2 linked regions of the Homo sapiens genome follow. The protein of the gene in region 1 purifies or fractionates together with the protein of each later gene. This does not show direct contact. Each region holds a gene or a part of one and is shown on either strand. Other genes may lie near its edges.

Region 1 (5,343 bases):
ACATAAGAACACAGGGAGTGGAGTCTCAATCCTGGCCCTCTTCTTTGATGTGTTATGTGGGCCTGTTTCCATGCAGACAGGCTTCCAGCTTGGCCTTTGGAAAGCAGGCTAAGATTGCTGGAAAATGTGACCATTGGCATCTGCACGATGGTATCTGTGATGCGGTGCTTCGTTCCAGGGCACCTTGTCTATCTTCTGAGATGCTATTACCTTGTGCCTACGAGCTGTACCTTCTGCTTGTGAGGTGAGAGGGCCCAGGCTGAGGGAAGGGGCTCAGAGCTTCTGTGGGGTCGTACGGCAGCTCTGGGCTTGTTGGTGGAACTTGGCTTGCCTTGACCCTTAGATAAATCTGAATCCTTGAGGGGAGCAGGTGGGTGGGACGGGTGTACGGGTGCACATTCTCTCCTGGCCTCTGAGCCCGCCTCTCCTGCTGTTTTTCATGCCATTTTTTCATGTTTTTTTGTGTGTTGTTCCCAAGCCAGCCCCTAAGATTTGCAGGGCCTGGGGCGAGAGTACACATGGAGCCTTCATTCCATCATCTAAAGTTATAAATCAACTAGGATAGGTCCCAACCTCCTACCCTGACAAAAGTACCTTCACAATGTCATGGAAGGCCAGGTTCAAGTTTAGAAGTTTCTGACTCCTCGGAGTTCTGCCTGGGAACTTGGGGAGTTGGAGAGCCGGCCCCAGCCCTCAGCCTGTCCTCTTCTCATCCCTGTCTCTGTTTTACTCCCAGAGTCCCAGCTTGGTCCAGAGCCCTGCAAACAGCTTGCCTCGGGTCTGTTTTGTGTGTGTGTATGTGTGTGTGTGTGTGTTTAGACTTAGCCTATTTACTATCCAGTTAGTGAATAACAGACCATGTACAAGTTATCGTCAGGTAAAAGATCAATACAACAAGAGATGTAAAGATGAAGCGTGTGTGTATGTATGTGTGGGCTGGGGGTGCGTGCGGTGTTAAGTTGCACATCTGCTGGAGTCAGATCATGGATAGCCTTGAATTACAGGCTGCAGAGCTGGGACTGAGCATGATGAGGTGGGGGTTTCTGAAGGTTCTGAGCGAAGAGGAATGAAATCGCAGCTGAACGGGAAGGAGACCAGTCAGGCAACAGCGTGGAGGAGCGGGGATGTGTCAGGAGGCTATGACAATAACCGCAAATGTCTCTTGTTTTTCAGGAAGTGATGTTCTGCAATGGATCGTCCAGCGGCTTTGGATCTCCAGTCTGGGTGAGAGCTCATCTGGCACTCAGTTATCCGGGACAGCTTTGTGTACAGCACCATGGGAGAAACTAAATAGAGACTTAGCCTGTGTTTCTGAGAAATTTACATTTTAATTGGACAGACATGACCTTCGTGTGTAAAAGTACCAGAATCAAAAGCAAAGGCAGGATAATTTGGGGACGAAAGAGTTATTTTGTACAAAATATTTAGAGCATAAATAACAGGGATAAGTGGGGAGGACTCAGTCAAGAAAGTCCTGGAGGGGGTGCTGTGTATAGCTGGTCTTGAAAGAAGTGATGCTTGTGAATTGGTGAAGAGGAGCTCTGAGGGTCTTCCTATAAGGGGACACTAGCAAGAGCAATGGTTTAGAAATGGAATGAGTGGAAAGTGGAGGAGTGACAAGGGAGATTGAGAGTCATGGCTCCAGATGGCTATGGAGGGTGGCAGAGGGGTGGAAGAGCACCTGCAGATCTGGGAGATAGGCAATAGGAAGCCACAGGCAATTTTTGAGCATGGCAATGTGCCTGATAATCATATTTCAGCTAGGGTGCCTCGCAGTGTCAGGCCTCTGAGCCCAAGCTAAGCCATCATATCCCCTGTGGCCTGCACGTATACATCCAGATGGCCTGAAATGAACTGAAGAATCACAAAAGAAGTGATATTTACATGGCCTGTTCCTGACTTAACTGATGACATTCCACCACAAAAGAAGTGAAAATGGCCAGTCCTTGCCTTAACTGAGGGCATTACCTTGTGAAATTCCTTCTCCTGGCTCATCCTGGCTCAAAAAGCTCCCCCACTGAGCACCTTGTGACCCCCCACTCCTGCCCGCCAGAGAACAACCCCCCCTTTTTCCTTTACCTACCCAAATCTTATAAAACAGCCCCACCCCTATCTCCCTTCGCTGACTCTCTTTTCGGACTCAGCCCGCCTGCACCCAGGTGAAATAAACAGCCTTGTTGCTCACACGAAGCCTGTTTGGTGGTCTCTTCACACGGACACGAGTGAAAGGCAGCAATTTAGAAAATGGATTGGAGCAGAAAGAAACTGGAGAGTAGATTTCACACTAGAAAATAGGCTGTTGGTACAATGAGGCATACAACTTTAGGACTTGGTCTTTGATGGAGGGAGCGAGACCTGGAGAGGGAGGGCTGGGGAGGAAGTCTTCCCACACCTTGGAGGCTGAGCTATGGGATGGGGAGATGGGTTGGGTCCTTGGGCTGGGGGGTCCTGCAGGAATGGAGGGATGGAATCCTCCCCAGAGGATGGAAGGATATCTGCTTTCATTGATGCTTTGGAGAAAGAACCAAGGAAGTTTGTCCTTTAATTGATATAATTGATAAACAAGGCTGTGCTTCCGAATAAACTGGAGCAGGGTGGGAATTAAAGTGAAGTGGGAAGGAGAGGAAGGGTCTGGACCCGAGATGCAGGCAGAGGTGAGCTTGGGATAGAAGTTGGCAATAAACATGATGCTCCTTGCTCATTCTTGGAGTGACAAAGTGTCTGTTGGTCCAACAGAGACATTTTCTTCCCAGTCCTGTGACCTTTCCCAGACCCAAAGGGCCTATAGAGGCTTCTCTAGGCCTTCCTTAACCATCACCCGCTGCAGCAGACCACGTGTGGTTTCTGTTAACATCCAGATTTCCTAGTTCCCATCTAGACTTATTGAGTTGTCACTCCTGGGGATAAGACCTGGGAGGTCCTCCTTTTAGCGTGCAACCCAGCTCACGCTTGTCCACAGCCAAGTTCAGCAACCAGTGTCCTCACTGCTCATGAGATGCAGTGCTGTTAGGAAGGGGCACCTGTCCTGGAGTTTGGGGTGCCGTGGGGGCCGGCAATGAGCTCCTGTCTCAGCCCTGCTCTTAACATCCATGTCTGAACTGCTTTTCCCAGAGGCACAGAACTTGGGCAACTTTATTGTCAGGTATGGCTACATTTACCCCCTGCAAGACCCCAAGAATCTCATTCTCAAGCCTGATGGCAGCCTCTACAGATTTCAGGTGAGTCTTGGCCTTGACCCTGGCTGTTCATATGGGGTTGATCTCATTTGAAAAGGTGGGGTTCATAGTTTCACAGATCAAGGACTTCAGAAATGGTGGAGGGGGCCAAGGTGGTTGGATTTCTTTAGTCACAGGGTTGGGGTCCATTGAGTCACAATCCAGTTTTAAAGCGTGGTTTCCCTGGTTTCTTTTGCAGACACCGTATTTCTGGCCCACCCAGCAGTGGCCAGCTGAAGATACCGATTACGGTAAATACTTCAGCCCCAACTATGCCTTTGGTAGTGCTTAACATGCTGCTTATTTACTTGCTGCACTTTGGTGACATTTGTCTTGCTGTCATCATGACCTTTCTGTCAGTCCACATCTGTACTGGGCATGTCCCCAGGGGCAAGGGGCTGGGTGTGCTGAGCGTTCTCTCCCCGACTCTGAGCACAGCAGCCTCAGGCTTAGGGAGGCTGCAGATGGGGTTTTGAAAGATGATGATGGAAAATGTCATTGCTTTCTTTTCCAGCCATCTATCTGGCCAAGCGAAATATCAAAAAGAAAGGGATTTTGGAAGAATATGAAAAGGTATGGAGGTGCTTTTAAGTAGAGGTTGTTATAATTGAGTGGAAGATAGTTTTGAGCTGTACTTTCCTCATTCCCACATCACTACATTCATATGCGCCCACATTCATATGCAATCCATCCAGCCAGCCAGCTAGCCATCCATTTATTAATTAGAAGCAGCTAGCTGAAGTAAATTCTTTCTCATGTCTAACTTCAGTTTCTCTTGCTGTAATTTAAGCCCTTGCCTCAGTGGCTACTGGGCACACAGTGGCTACCCACTTCCTTTTGCCATCCCAAAACAATGTGACATAATAAATATGTACTCTAATGGACAACCCTTGGTTAACAGATTTGAACTTGAATTGTTTTTTTTGTTTTTTTGAGACAAGGTCTTGCTCTGTTGCCTGGGCTGAAGTACAGTGGCATGATCTCAGCTCACTGCAACCTCCACCTTCCAGGTTCAAGCGATTCTCCTGCCTTAGCCTCCCGAGTAGCTGGGATTACAGGCGTGTGCCACCACGCCTGGCTAATTTTTGTATTTTTAATAGAGATGAGGTTTCACCATGTTGGCCAGGCTAGTCTCGAACTTCTGACCTCAAGTGATCTGCCTGCCTCGGCCTCTCAAAGTGCTGGGATTACAGGTGTGAGCCATCGTGCCTGGCCCGAACTTCAATTTATGATGGGAAAACAATAGGACTGTATAGACTTTTGTTTTAGGCTGGGTGAGTCCAGTTTCCCAAAGAACACATGCTAGCCCTCAAAAGGCCAAAATTTCTGGGTGGAGGGTTAAAATCTTGCTGTGTTTTTATTTTTATTTATATATTTATTTATTTATTTATTTATTTATTTGAGACAACGTCTTGCTCAATCACCCAGGCTGGCCTATAGTGGTGCAGTCTCGGCTCACTGCAACTTCTGTCTCCTGGGCTCAAGCCTCAGCCTCCCAAGCAGCTGGGACTACAGGAGCACACCACCATACCCAGCTAATTTTTGTATTTTTTGTAGAGACAGGAGGCCCAGGCTAGTCTCAAACTCCTGGGCTCAAGTGATCCATCCACCTCAGCCTCCCGAAGTGCTGGGATTACAGGCGTGAGCCACCATGCTAGGCCACGTGTTTTTATTCTTACAAACATGTTTTCAGAAAGGCCGGTTTATCTTTGTTTTATCTTAGGGTTTATTTTGTGAATTTGTGATGCTCTGTTGTTGAATAGTGAGTTTCCAGGTTGGGTGTGGTGGCTCACGCCTATAATCCCAGCATTTTGGGAGGCCAAGATGGGAGGATCACTCGAGGCCAGGAGTTCAAGACCAGCCTGGCAACATAGTGAGACCCTATCTCTACAAAAGATTAAAAAATTAGCCAGGTGTGGTGGCATGCACAGGTAGTCCTAGCTACTGAGGCAGGAGAATGGCTTGAGCCCAGGAGTTTGAGGCTGCAGTGAGCTATGATTGTGCCACTGCCTTCCAGCCTGGGCAACACAGTGAGACACTGTCTCAAAAAAAAAATTGATTTTCAAATTATTTTTAATCTCTGATGCTCTCTTCCTAATCAGATTTGGGATACATTTATTTATTTATT
Region 2 (3,500 bases), on another chromosome or scaffold:
GCGCTGGCACTGCTTCCTGCTGCTCCTGGGCCTCCACTGCAGCCTGGGGCAGGTGGAGGTCTAGGGGGTTGGCTGTCAGCCATCTATGATCTCTGACTTCTTTCTCTTTTCTCAAATGGTGGTATCTCTTCTTTGAATGTACCCCGGCGTCTGCTTCCTCTGGGGAGCTTGTAAGGATGAGCTGTGCTCTCAGCTCCTTGGCAATGGGTTCCAGGCAGCGTGCCGAGGGAGGGCAGTCAGGCCTGGGGGGCTGGCAGGGGTCTCAGTGCCGGCGCCTCCCCTGCCCTGCAGGATCTCCCCTCCTCACTGCCCTCCCCGAGTCTCCAGGATCAGCCGCCTTTTGGGGCTCCCTCCAAGGCCCTCTCCCCATAAAACCAGGTTTGGTTATGCCTGTCCTCTGCTCCCCAAGTCCTCCCCTGCACTGCCACTCCTGGGACCACAGACTGTGATCATCTTTCTCCAGCTGGACTCTGAGCTCTCGGAGAGCAGGAGCCTGATGTGGTCATTCTTACATCCTCGGGGCAGCCCAGCAGAGAGCCCTGCACACAGATGCCAGGCAGTACTGACTGGAGGAGCGAGTGTGGTGTGAGTCGTGCTCTGTGGCCCTGAGATGTAGGGGCTGTGGCGGGGGCTCAGCCTTAACCAGTGGAACTGTGGAGCCTAAATGAGCCGGACTTGATTTCTCCTCCACACCTAAGCTCAGTGGCCAAGGGGGCACAGTCCCCACTCCCAGCTCAGGTCACTCTAGTGGCTGCTCCTGGCAGTGCCTGGGAAGATGTGCAGTGGAGGAGGGAGCTTGGCTCTGGCTGTGGGTTTCCAGCTCTCTGTTAGGCAGCTGCAGGCCAAGGTGGCTCTGTGGAGTGGGGAGCATGTTCCTGTGGAATCCTTGGGGTCTCAGAGCCTCACCACTCTGGCCTCATAATGTGGCTCAATGAGCTTGAGTGTGGACAGCCCGAGGCCCTGGACACAGGTTCACTGGGCCTCCCAGAAGCCTCCGGCTGCCCTTTTCTGAACAGATCCCAGTGAGGTGGCTCAGGGCAAGCGAGACCTGCTCCTCCCCGGAGGGATCACACAGATGACAGGGAAATGCTCCTGGGGAATCAGAATGAAATTTACTGATTGAGGATAGGAGAGTGATGAGATCATATGAGTTTACTGAATCTGTTTAGCAGAATGAAAGGGCAGTGCCGTGTACTACAGCTCCTGGGGGGTGGGGAATAACGCCATGCCAGCTGTCCAGGTGCCCCTGAGAGGCAGCTGAGAACGCTGCCCTCCGCCGACCAACTTCAGCTAATAGGAACCAGGGGCTGGGGCTGGCCGCCTCTACAGGTCATGGTAGAATGATGTAGGCACGGGGGAGATACTGAAGGGAGGACTGGCCGTAAGACGCACGGAGCCCGCCATGCTGCTGTTAGTATCGATTCCTCGAAAGCCCCACAGCCTGCTGATATGGACTGGAGAGACCCATTGCATAAGTTCTGGATCTGGCCCAGCTGTGTCACCGCGGTGTCCCCTCAGGCCAGATGAGGTTAAGTGACATGGGCAGGGAGAGCGCTGGCACAGTGTGGGCCTCAGTGACTGGTGTGGTCACTTCATCTTCATTGCCCTCCTTCTGCTCAGAGGGGGGCGGTGTGGCAGTGGGACCAGCAATTCCTCAGCACCCACGGTGTGCTCACCCCTGGGGGAGGAGGTCATCTCCCCGTAGATGCCCAGTGGCATCTACACCAGCTGTCTTCTTTTTCTTGTTACTTGTGTCACTCTTCTTATTTCAGAGGTAGAGTTTAGCCTGGTTCACCTCTGGGCTTTAGATCCAGAGAGCTGGGTTTACAGTGAGCAAGTTCCCAGGGCTAGGACAGGGTTCTTGGGGAAAATAAGGGAAACTGTCCCTTCCTCCCACTCCCTGTGCAGAAATGGATTCGTTCACAGAGAAAGATGCCCTCTGTGCTGCTGAGAGACAGACTCTGCCCAAGTGAATGAGCTCAGCGCCCCAAAGCAGAGTTTTTGCCCAGGGCAAGAGGCTGCCCCCGTTCGGCATCTGTGGGGCGCCCATCACGTTCATCCATTTGCTAAACAGGCTCCTGTGTGCAGGGCAGCCCTCCACATCTGCCTTGCTTAGAACATCATGCAGTGTCAGATGCAGCTGAGTAGGACCCAGCCAGAGGAGGTGTGGCCAGTCCCCCAGGTGCTCCTGGAGGTGGCCCTGCCAGGAGCCTCTCCCCTGAGTGGTGGCACCCAGGATGCTGGCAGGACCTGGCATGCCTTCCCCTGAGACCATAGGAAGGGCCCGGAGTCTCTCACCACTCCCAGAGAACATCCCCCTACCCAGGATGGGCCCAGGAGGAGAGGTCTAGGCAGGAAGGGCCAAAGCCCAGCTCTCCGGCTCCGGTCCAGACTCCCCCAACGCCCACACACACAGGCACACACACAGGCACGCACACACACTCAAGCACATGGATGCACACAGGCATGCACACACAGGTGCACACACATAGGCACACATGCACACGAACACACACAGGCACACATAACAGGTGCATGCACACACACACAGGCACATGCACACAGCCACACACACGTGTGCTGGGAGACCCTCACATAGCTGGGAACTCTGCAGTGGGGAGAGCCCGGGTCACCCTGTCCTCAGCCTCCCCAGAGAGCCATGGCTGGTGTCCAGTCCAGTCTCTGCCTCTGGCCCCGACATGACGGGTTCTCCGGAAGCAGGGAATGAGATGTGCTGTGAGGTGTAACTGACTCAGGTTCCATCTGGCAGCCTCTCGGAGGAGCTGCCGAGTAGCCCAGTCCCTCTCTGTCAAGCCTAATTCTCTCCTTCTCTTTCCCTGTCTCTGTGTCTCCCTCCCGCTGTCTGTCCTCTCTCCTCCCTTCCTGCGGCCGCAGAACCGCATGCACGAGTCTCTCATGCTCTTCGACTCCATCTGTAACAACAAGTTCTTCATCGATACCTCCATCATTCTCTTCCTCAACAAGAAAGATCTCTTTGGCGAGAAGATCAAGAAGTCACCTTTGACCATCTGCTTTCCTGAATACACAGGTGGGTGCCAGGCAGTCCTGTGCAGGGGGAAGCCTGCCCCTGACAGGGACCCATGGCTCAGAGAACAGGCTGCTCGGCCAGCACTGCTGGGGCTAGCTGGCGAGCGGGACCCATTGCAGGAGACTGGTGGGGCGCAAAAGAAAAACAGTGCTGTGCCACCAGGTTTGGGCTTCCCAGGACACAGCCCTCAGCGTGGTGGAAATGGCCCCTCCTAAGATATATGTGTTAGGACCAAGTGACTCAGGAGTGGTGGGGAGCAGGGGGCAGGACAGGATCACAGGCTTCCCCCTTCCTCCTGGTCACCCTCTAGAAGAGGTCTCAGGACAGCCTCCTGTAATCTCAGCAGTGGCCTCCCCTCACCCCTGCCCAGAGCCCCACAGCACCTTTGCATGAAACCGAAAAGTGGACACGTGGCCTGTGAACAGGGCCTGGACTGCCTCTTGGCCCCACC

Evidence for each region. The genes of interacting proteins can lie anywhere in the genome.
Region 2: the proteins of RGS9 (region 1) and GNAO1 purify together in Homo sapiens (affinity purification with western blotting, with the first as the bait; one study listed by BioGRID). This does not show direct contact.

What each region holds. Positions count from the first base shown.
Region 1 is NC_000017.11:65,157,122-65,162,464, forward strand, and holds part of RGS9 (regulator of G-protein signaling 9), read left to right. Parts: intron 1-1,173; coding exon 1,174-1,224; intron 1,225-3,111; coding exon 3,112-3,218; intron 3,219-3,414; coding exon 3,415-3,466; intron 3,467-3,729; coding exon 3,730-3,788; intron 3,789-5,343. UniProt on the Homo sapiens protein: Inhibits signal transduction by increasing the GTPase activity of G protein alpha subunits thereby driving them into their inactive GDP-bound form. Binds to GNAT1. Involved in phototransduction; key element in the recovery phase of visual transduction.
Region 2 is NC_000016.10:56,348,489-56,351,988, forward strand, and holds part of GNAO1 (guanine nucleotide-binding protein G(o) subunit alpha), read left to right. Parts: intron 1-2,895; coding exon 2,896-3,049; intron 3,050-3,500. UniProt on the Homo sapiens protein: Guanine nucleotide-binding proteins (G proteins) function as transducers downstream of G protein-coupled receptors (GPCRs) in numerous signaling cascades.